2 separate regions of the Homo sapiens genome follow, and region 2 is linked to region 1. The links come from fine-mapping of genetic effects on gene expression. Tissue or cell type: caudate. Region 1 holds a variant in brackets; the other region holds the start of a gene. All regions are shown on one strand. Distances are from middle to middle.

Region 1 (5,145 bases):
TTGCTGAACACCACTAAAACCCTTGCTGTGGCCGTCTTTATCTGCCACCAGCTGGCAACCCCTTGGACACAGAGATGTTTGGTTTTTTTCCCTTATGAGAAACCGAAGACTCCAAGTTAACTATCTTAGAAAATAAGGAGCTTCTTATCTCACCCAAGAAGTCAGGAGGGCGTGGAGACTAGGACTGACTAACACACCTACCTCTCTTCCTGGTTACCAGGAGGTTGCCAGCACTCCAGGCAGATGCTTTGATGTCAAATTTTTTTCAGTGGGCCCTTTTTTCCCAATATGACTCTAAAAACAAGAGAAAGTCCCTCCCTGTGTCCCACAGCCTGGAATTATGCCCCACACCTAAAGCAATCACGGGCAAGGAAATTGGTTCCCGCCAGCAGCCAGGACCAACCTCAATCACCACCTGGTGTGGCCACTGGGCTCCCTCCTATGAAGCACATGGCCACCCAAGAAGGGCGGATGTCTGAACAAAATGGAAAATAGAGGGTTTTGTTAGAAAGGAGAAGTGGGCAGCCGGGCATGGTGGCTCACGCCTGTAATCCCAGCACTTTGGGAGGCCGAGGCAGGCGAATCACCTGAGGTCAGGAGTTTAAGACCAGCCTGGTCAACATGGTGAAACCTTGTCTCTACTAAAAATACAAAAATTAACTGGGCATGGTGGCGCACACCAGTAGTTCCAGCTGCTCAGGAGGCTGAGACAGGAGAATCACTTGGATCCAGGAGGCAGAGGTTGCAGTAAGCCGAGATAGTGCCACTGTACTCCAGCCTGGGCAACAGAGGGAGACTCTATCTCAAAAAAAAAAAAAAAAAAATGGAAAGGAGAAGTGGTTAGAGGTGAATGGATTTGGGAAGGCAACCAATCCATCTGCTTCAGCTACCTATATAAGGGACCCCTCTTGGCTGGTGGGGCCTTAATCTTTTGGACATTAATGTAATTTTTCAGATTTTGCCAACTCTAGTAATAATAGCTAGCACTGAGCACGTACTAGGAGCTGTTCTAAGTGCTTTATCGCATTAAGGCATTTAATTCCCAGGTGAACCCCATGAGGCAGGTGCCGTTGTTATCCCATATTGATATGGAAGGAAGCTGAGAGAAAAGAGGTTAAGCAGGCATATGTTGATGCTTACTTTGCATTCAGCAAATGTGACAACTTGTTACACCTGTAGTTAGACCCAGTCCATCACAGAGAGAAGTCTTTCTGTTCATCATCACCGCACAAGTCGGTGGAGCTTTGTGTTCCAACCACAGAGTTGCCTTTCTGTCCATGGAGCATCTACTTCAAGTGGGCATTTGGGAGTTTTCTTCCCTTTTCTCTCTGGTGTCCTGCCTTTCACACTTCCTCCACCGCGTCAGTCTTTCATGCACCCTGTCTGCCTGTGGGGTCCCAGCTCCATCCTGGAGTGGTGGCAGCGCCCGAGACCTCAGACAGCTTCCTCACATTCTTCAGGCGAGGACTGCCAGGAGAGAAAGAACTTGAACAAAGATGCAGTGTGTTGCCAGGCTAACGAAGTGTAAGTTTTTTTATTCCATCTATCATTTGTCAACTCCCGACAAGAGGTGAAGATAGGAGTGGCTAAGACAGGAAGAAAATCCCATCTTACCACCTAAGGTGAGGTGAGGGCTCATTGTAAGCCCTGTTGAGGGAAGTACTGAGAAACAGAAAGCTATTCTGACCTGTATAGGAATACAGTGTATGTTCAGAAGGTCGTGACTCTCCCCCTCACAAAAAAAATACGTTCTTCACTGAAGACTAGAATTAAAGAATGTATATTCAGTTAAAGAAGTACATAAAGAAAAACAAAGCATTCTAAGCCCCAGGCTGTTTGCTCTTGTACCGTGTCACTACCCAAGTCAGGGAGCTCTCAGAAGAAAAAAATGCTTGAAGGTTCAGGCACCATGATGCCAGAACATCTGGTCTACCCAGTCGGCTGTGACAAGCGTGTCTGTTGGACACTGAGTGATCTGACACAGGTTTTTATGGGATTACCCTGGTGCCTTGGAGGTGTGTGGAGATAGTCATTTCAGAAGTAATTAGTAAATAATTATAATTGCTGAGCTGCTGGCTTGCTCTGTAATATCCTCATGAAGAAGAGACAAAAGTGGTGGGTAGATTCATTCTCTTAAAGAGGTGAATTTTCTTTAAAAAGACATTTAAAAATTTAATATTCAAGGGATAAAGAATCAGTTGTTAGAATCACCACCATTTCATAAACACACCTTAATTTTATAACACTACATTAGCATGAATGAATAGACAGGAATGCAGTCTGTTTGCCTAACAAAAAGGCTGTGTCAAGCTCAAAATGAGGCCATTTACTAAAACAAGCAAGCTCTTGGTTAATTCCTAATATTCCCCTAATCCTACTTTCATCAGCTCTACTTTGCTGCACTTGGTATTAATTGCCTATTGTAGCAGGTATTTGAACACATCTCCTCTTTCATCTGAAGAAAATATTAGCATATCGTAGAGCTGTTGGGACAGATTGTATCTGAGACACTGTTTCCTCCCCGCAGAAAAGCCTATCAAT[C/G]ATAACTGAATATAGTGATTAATAATGTCACAGCTTTTATTCTTGTGTCTCCGTGCATCTAAATGAAGAGTAGCACTTATATTTTGATCTAGAGAATCTCACACCACAAAATAATCCGTTGGCATTTTATTAAAAAATTATATTGAGAATACTTCTACCCCAGGACCTATTTTTGGTTGCTGTATCATTAATTTACTAAAGCTTTCATGAAGGAACTACAGCAAAGATTCTGCAATATCAGAATTTGCAATTATTTCGGACTAAGGTTTTTTTTTTAATCTTCCTGTGTGTGACAAATTAATAGTGCAAACGCAAGATTGTAGGGGTAAATGTTTAAAGCAGCATGGTGTGGGGGTACAGTCTGGAGCTCTGGCCTTAGCAAGTCCAAGCATGCATTTGAACACCAACACGGACTCTCTGAGTGATCCTGAGCAAGCTAGTCTTGCCTCTTTCGAGACTTTCCCCATCTGTGAACTGGGTGAACAATATTGCAAGGTTTTCTCAGTGTTATTGGGATTCTGTGTGAGAATAAATATAAAATGAACTCACCGTAGTGCTGGGCACATAGAAGTTACTCAACAAAATTAGGAGTTTGTATTTAGAGGACACAAAGCATGCGAGTTCTTACGTGGGAAGTTAAAGGATGGCATGCGATCATCTAGGGCAGCAGTCCCCATCCCCCAGGCTGCAGACCTGTACTGGTTGGTGGCCTGTCGGGAACCAGAATGCACAGCAGGAGGTGAGCGGTGGGCAAATGAGCATCACCGCCTGAGCTCCGCCTCCTGTCAGATCAGCAGCGGCATTAGCTTCTCATAGGAGCACGAACCCTATTGTGAACTGCGCATGCGAGGATCTACGTTGCACGCTCCTTATGAGAACCATCTAACTAGTGTCTGATGGTCTGAGGTGGAACAGTTTCATCCCGAAACCATACCCCCTCCCCACTGGCCCATGGAAAAATTGTCTTCCACAAAACTGGTCCCCGGTACCCAGAAGGTTAGGGACTGCTGCTCTAGGATTGAAAGCTACTAGGGGAAGAATAAGAGGGCTATATGCTGAGGGTGCCCACGTTTATATCTCCTTCTGAGGCCCCAGACTCACCAGTGTCCACAGACAAAAACGTAACTCGTGACTGTCCTCCTGCCCCACCCCAAGAATCCTTCCTCCCAGGTCAGTAAATGGTTCTACCACTCATCATTCATTCAAGCAGAAACCAAGGACCAGTCTTGATTACCTCTCCCTTACCAGTGCCCCTCCCATATGCAGGCCGTCAGCAAGTTATGTCTACTGTATCCTGAACTAGATCCCAAACCCGGACACTTCTGATCCATCCCTACTGCCATCATTATACCTAAGCCACCATTGTTGCTGGCCTGTGCTTTGTCAGTGACTCCTTAGCTGGGTTTCCCGTTGCCTCTCTTGCCCCTTATAATCTGCATTCCACACAACAGCCAGAGTTATCCGTTCAAAACATAAGCCAGAGCCCGTCAGACTTCTCTGGTGAACATACCCATGTCTTTTGCTTGTGCATCGAGTACACTTCAGTTAAATGTCCCAGCTTTCAGAGCTCTGCCCGAGAGAGCTCTCTAGTGAGATGTCTTTTGACTACCCTAAAACTGTACATTTTCCGTAACACGTAGAACATTCTGAAATGTTGTTTGTTTGCTTGTTTGTGACTGGGATCTGTGTTCTGTGGGAGCAGGCACCTTTTCTGTCCTGTCCACTGTGGTAACTTCAGTGCCTTGAACAGTTCCTAGAGCCGGATATACACTCAGTAAATAATTATTGTATGAATAAAGAAAGTTTTGTAGAAAAGTTCATATTCCTTGGAATAGCCAGGAACAATTGGATGAGGAAGGTGATATTGGAGCTTGAGTTTGGACCATAGATAGACTTGCAATGCACGTTGAGGATGGGATAGGGGAAGAGATGTGGGGTAGTTTTCAGAATTGCAACCTGGCCTAAGAAAAGGACATGAGGAGAGGGAAGCCGGGCTGTGGCCAGAGCACCGCAAGGAGACAAGCCCTGCGGCTATTCTGTAGAGTTATGTTTCTCAAGGCAAGTTGGGACAGATCAGTTTTGAAAGGTAGACTGGCGGAAAAGATGCATTTGAAGGCCAGGTTTTAACCCTTCGGCATGGGTCAGGAGGAGGATGACTGAAGGTTTCTGATAAGGGGGTTATGATGTATTTAGGAGAGTGCTGTCAGCAGCATCATGGGTGCATTTGCTGGGAAAGCAACTGGAGTCAGGCGTACCTGTTACCAGGCTTGGAAGTCATCGGTCACCCTCTTACCATCATCGTCTGCATTTGTTGAGCACCTACTGGTGTTGTGGGGACACCATGTGGTTATTGGGGATACAAAGAAGACTAAGGCCTGATTCTTGTCCTCCAGAAACTTAAAATCACCTTGGGGACACAAGCGTAAGCAACACATTATGATGGTTTAAAAATGTGTTTATTGGGCGGTATATCACCTAGATCAGGAGGAGTTAGGGAATAAAGTGATACAAGTTGCTCATACTGACAGCTGAGAGATGTGGACAGTAAACTCTCTAAGACTTTGTAAGAGAAAGTCACCCCTATTGGCTACTGGGGAGGTACCC
Region 2 (5,145 bases), 340 kb after region 1:
CAGGGTGGATGTGAGTGATTCTAAGCGTACCACGGGGTGGTTACATCAGAGGTACCTCCTCGGCCATGTAGGTGACTCTCTGAACCCATCCACATCACCAGTACAGGGACCTCATTCAATCCAGGTCTTCCGAAATTCCTGGGGCCGAGAAATAAATAGGAAGGCAGTCCCACACTGAAACACTTCCGAACACACGATTAAGCCTCCGTGACTGGATTATCGCCTTTTGACTAGCCATCGCCCAATTAATGTACCTCCAGTGAGCAAGCACTAGAATCGATGGAACCATTCCACCGAAATCCATCTCCAGAAAAAGATTTTACAAGTGTTGTGGGGCTGCCACTCAGAAAGCCAATTTGCAAGGAGCCCAGCACGGTGAAGCGCAGTTTATCATGCGTGGTTCCCACACAGAGGGCCCCTGCAGACTGCGCCTGGCTCCAGAATGCCTCCCTAGCACCACAAGCTCAAACGCATTGAGGTTCTCCCCTGCCTCAGCCCGGCCGAATCCATCAGCACCCTCCCCAAATAGTCTCTTAGAGCCCTGGCTCCTGTACACCAAGATCTGGCTTCCGACTGGACGTGGCAGTCAGCTGGTGGCCTCTCCAACATCGCCCTGTGCCAGGTTTCTCACCAAGTTGGTTTAATTTTTTTTTTTTTTTTGCAAAGTCCAGTCAGATTATTGACAGTGCCTGTCTGCCTGACCCGCCCCCGCCCCCCGGCGCCGCAGATCCCTGCTAACAAGTCTCCCAGTGCCATTCAACTCCCGTGAGCCAGCTCCGCCATTCAACAGCCAGCCCACTTTTGTTCCCCCAGTTTAATTTCATAATTGTTTGCCACTTAACAAGCTCTCCTCTGGGCCATTCAATAGAGCAGGGGAAATGGGGAGGGGGAAGGCAAAGAAACTCTGGGAGGGGAGCTGGGAGCCAGGCCAGCCCAGCACTGGGGAAGAGACATCCCAGAGAGGTCAGCTGGACAGGGGTGGGGGCCAGTTCCGGAGTGGAGCCTCCTGACACCAACTGGGCCACCCAGCTTGAGCCCGGAGAGGTGGGAGGGAAAGGAGCAGGGTGAGTTCCGAAGGCCAGGCCGGGGCCTGCCAGACTCCTGGGCACATCAGTGCTCTGAATGACACGCCTCTGGCCCTGCCAGGGTGAAGGGAGACAGCATGAATTCACGCTCCCGTAACATGTCCCAGAACAAACACACAGGAGACAGAACTGCTCCTTAGTTTGGGCATTCCATGATCAACATTCCCTTTGAGGGCTGGGACCTGTCTAGGTAGCCACTGAATCCCCTGGCCGAGCACATAGCAGACAGGAATAAATATGTGTTGAGTGAGTGGATGGATGGATGGATGGATGGATGGATGGATGGGAGGGAGGGATGAATGGATGGAAGGAAATGGATGAAGTTTCCAGCAATACCTAGCAAAAGTGGCCACTCGGCCAGCGTTCGTTCCCTATCTCTTCCCCCCCAAGTGCCAGCAGGGGCTTGGCAGCGCACACAGTAGGCTCTCTACAAGCGGGGGCTGCTATTGTTACCACTATCATCATCACTGGCACTCCACCAGCCCGCTGCTTCCACCAGCTACTCCGCCAGCAGCAGCAGCGACTGGCGAGCAAGGGAAAAGTTTCGCTGACCCCGCGGCCCCAGCCGGAGTCCCGCGCCCTGGCGGAGCCCCCTCCCGCCGCCGCCCGCTAGGCAGGCGGGGCAGCTGGGGTGCCCAGCCCGCTTCCCGCACCCGGCAAAGGCGGCCAAAGTAACTTTGCGGGCGCCCCTGCGCAGCGCCGCGGGCGTCGCCCAGCGCCTGGAGAGGGTCCCGGCCGCGCCCCGCGCCCGGCCTCCCGCCCGCGCCCGCCGCGCCCCGCCCGCCTCCGGTCCTACCTGGCCCCGGGCTCCTCTTCGGCGGCCGCGGCGGCTGCGAGCAGCAGCGCGCACCGAGGGAGGCAGGGGCTCCCGGGAGGGAGGCGCGCAGGGGCGGGGGCTCCTCCGGCGGCGGCCGCCTCGCCGCGCGTCCGAGGCTGCAAGTGGGAGCCAGACTCCTCCTTCGTGGGGCGGGGGGCTCCCCGCGCCCCCTCCGCCGCCCGCCCGCGCGCCGCGAGGCTCCGAGCCTCCTTGGCTCCCCCCGCCCGCCGCCGCCCGCCTCCCCACGCCCGCCCTCCCCGCCTCTCCGCGCCCGGCCGCCGGGAGGGGCGCGCTCGCGGCCTCGGTCCCGGCCCTTGCGCCGCCACCCGCCGGGGCCCCCGCCAGGCCCGCCAGGCCTCGGCCCTCGGCCCCCGCCCGGGCTCGGAGTCCGCATCCCGCTGCGGAGGGACAGGGAGCGCGGCCGCGGGCCTGGACGCGGGAGGAGGAGCGGGGCCCGCGCTGCGGAAAAGGGAGGGGGCCGCCCCACTGCGCCCGGCGCCCCTCTTGGCGCCCGCCCCCAGCCCCGGACCGGGCCGCGCGCGGGCTGGGCAGGGAGCGGGGCGGGGGCGCTCTCACCTCCGGATCCGTGGCCTCCGCAGCGGGCACCGCGTGCAGGGGCGTGCGCGGCTCCTTCCGGGGCGCCGCAGCCTTCGCCCGAGGCCCGGACCCCCTCCTGGGGCCGCCGGGGCACCCTGCTGTGGGCCCCTCCCGCCCGGGGTCTGGAAGGTCCCCCTCCGGAGACGGAGACACTCTGACCCCAGCTCCCAGTCTGAATAGGTCGGGGTCCTCCTCCTGGGCCACCATCTCTTCCACTCGGGAGTCACAGGTCCCCAATCCCGGGCACAGCAGGTAGCCTGCAGCGGCCGGAGCCCCAACGGGATGGGTAAACAAGTCAGGAACTCAGACGGCGCGACACCCAGTGTAAAGAGGCCCTGCCTTGCTGGGAAGAGCAGAGACCATCGCCTTCAGTGTCGGGGGTCACCCTGGGGAGTTTAAGGCCCTGTGGCTTCCAGCCCCTTGCCGCGGGTGGGACGGGGATTCCAGGGCCTTGTATAGTTAGGGTGCAGATCACTCTGGCCTGGGCCTCCCAGACTGAGAGGAAGATGAAAAGGGGCTGTGGCTCCTCAGAGGCCCAAAGCCCCTCAACAAATGCTTGTAGGGTCTCCCTTCACCAACACACACATCACACAATCCCCAAGGACACCCTCTGCGGGCCCCTCAGGCCTATTCTGCCCCTGAGGACTGCTATCTGGTGTGGCTTCCTGGAGGTGGGGACAGCCCAGTTGAATGAGTGTATGCCAGGAGAGAAGGCCTGGAAAAGACATCCAGGCCGAGGGAATGCGGCATGCAAAGGCCTTGGCATGTGAGTTCATTGGGGCTAGAGACAAAGGAAAAGCAAGGGAGGGAAGATGAGGTGGCAAGGCTGGGAGTGAGGGAACAGAAGCCAGATCGGGAAGAGCCTTGGATAGACTTTATCAGGGGCAGTGGGAGCCATAGAGGGTTTTTAAGCAGGGCTGTGACTTGGTCACGTTTATCTTTTTACAGCTTGTTCTGGCACCTCTAAAGACAGAGGTAGAGGGGGAGAGGCTGGGCTATGGAGGGAGAGGATGGAGGCCTGGGGCCCTCAGGCCAGAGATGGGGGGCAAGGGCTGGCCGAGGAGTCCTGAGGCAGTCACCCCCTCCTGCTTCCTTGTCTTTAGACCCCAATTCTCTCTCAGGGAATCCCAAACTCAACCCGGGAGCCTCTTTCTCCTCCTAGGCTACAGGCTTCCTGAGCACCGTGACTTCGAGGGAGGTGAAGGAGAAAACTGTCATGCCTGCCTGGGAAGGCGGCTTGGACTCAGTGTCTCAGCAGACCCCACCTGCCGCCTGCCTGGGACAAAGCCACAGCTTGGCTGTGGCCTCTGGAGATCACAAAGGACAGTGACAAATGTGCCTTCCTGGTCCCTGGGTCGAGAGCAGAGGTTCCTGTGACACTTGTCCTCCAAGGCCAGCTTCCCCACCACCTCCAGTCCTACCAGAACTACCCTCAAGTCCCAGAGCATCATCTCTTACCTTCCCAGGGTACACATTTATTGAGCATCTACCATATTCCTGGCACTCGGCACTTGCTTTGAAGCCAAGCATGAGCTCTCCACCAGAGGGACCTGGTGCTACCTGCACCACCCAGTCCCAGGCGCAGAGCTCTCAGCTTGACCCACACTGTCTTATGTAGCCCTCATGCCTCCCCTGGGCCAGGCTGCATCCCAGAGGTCAGCCTCCCCAGCGCCTAGTGCTGCATCCCACAGGGCCTGGCACTCTGTAGGTGCCCAGGGAATGGTCCCTAAAAGATGAGGGAATGAGGAGTGTGGGATGGGCAGGATAGACCCACTCCTAAAAGAGCAACCATTCTGGCAAACACAGCACACATTCTGCTTTTGGAAAAATTTAATAACACAGTGGCACTTGTTCATGGAGACTAATAGAAACACCACACAATCCCACACTGCTAAACCAGCCAGGAGATGGCTCGTTCTGCTGGAAAACATTTCCTAGGCGCCTACTACGTGCTGGAGGCCAAGGCAGAGAAGGAAGAGAAGGAAGGCACTCTGTCATGGGAGAAGCAGAAGGTCAGCAGATACTCATGACACCAGGGAGAAGAGGGCAGCCCAGGGCAAGGAGAGCAGCACATGCAGCCAGGACACTTCAGAGGAGGCAGTGTGTGTGCTGCAGAAGAATCTAGGGATAAATGGGAGAGGGGCAGCCAGGCAAAGGGACCAGCCTGTGCAAAGGCTCAGAGGCTCCAAAGTGCATGTGCGATATCCCCTGGCCAAGAAACTCACCTTCCAGAAAGGCGTCCTGAGGCAGTAACTGCAGGCTGTTTATAGCAGCCCAGAAGTGAAAGCAACCTAAATGCCCAGCCAGAGGGGATCCGTTTTTTAAATCCTGCTATGTCTGGGGAGTTTCAAATAGCCAAGTCCTGTTGCTGAAATGCCACATGGGAAAATGGGCTCCATGCTCACCACCCATCCCGCGAACGAGCGAAGCAGGTTACACCAGAGTGTGCCCGAATCTGTGTTTTGAAAAATGAAAAAATAGAGGGAAAGAGGAGAAAGAAGTCAGGAAGTAAATACAGCAAAATTTCAACCCTGATGATAAGATTTTGGGTGGGGGTTGGGGGAGTCTACTTTATTTATGGGAATTTTTTGTCTCCTACTTTCCCGCGATCATCAGGATGTCACGAAGGATGGTGAGTGTGGGGCA

Direction of the effects. Alleles are on the strand shown, and positions count from the first base shown. SD is a standard deviation of normalised expression in the study named.
In carriers of allele G in region 1, the expression in caudate of the gene that starts at base 2,026 in region 2 tends to be higher than with C alone (large effect, 0.81 SD a copy in GTEx).

The links. PIP is the estimated chance that this variant, and not a neighbour inherited with it, causes the effect.
Region 2: it holds the start of MPPED1, and the variant in region 1 is fine-mapped to the expression of MPPED1 in caudate (GTEx, PIP above 0.99).

What each region holds. Positions count from the first base shown.
Region 1 is chr22:43,747,796-43,752,940 of GRCh38, reverse strand. The region is part of intron 6 of EFCAB6 (EF-hand calcium binding domain 6); the gene reads left to right. Among named protein-coding and RNA genes, the nearest start is that of EFCAB6, 62 kb to the left of the region's middle. The variant C/G (reference allele first, on the strand shown) is at 2,542.
Region 2 is chr22:43,408,895-43,414,039 of GRCh38, reverse strand. It overlaps MPPED1 (metallophosphoesterase domain containing 1), which reads right to left and starts at 2,026. Exons shown (of 7, transcript NM_001044370.2): 1 at 1,882-2,026. It overlaps LINC01639 (long intergenic non-protein coding RNA 1639), which reads right to left. Exons shown (of 4, transcript NR_146918.1): 4 at 4,359-4,954.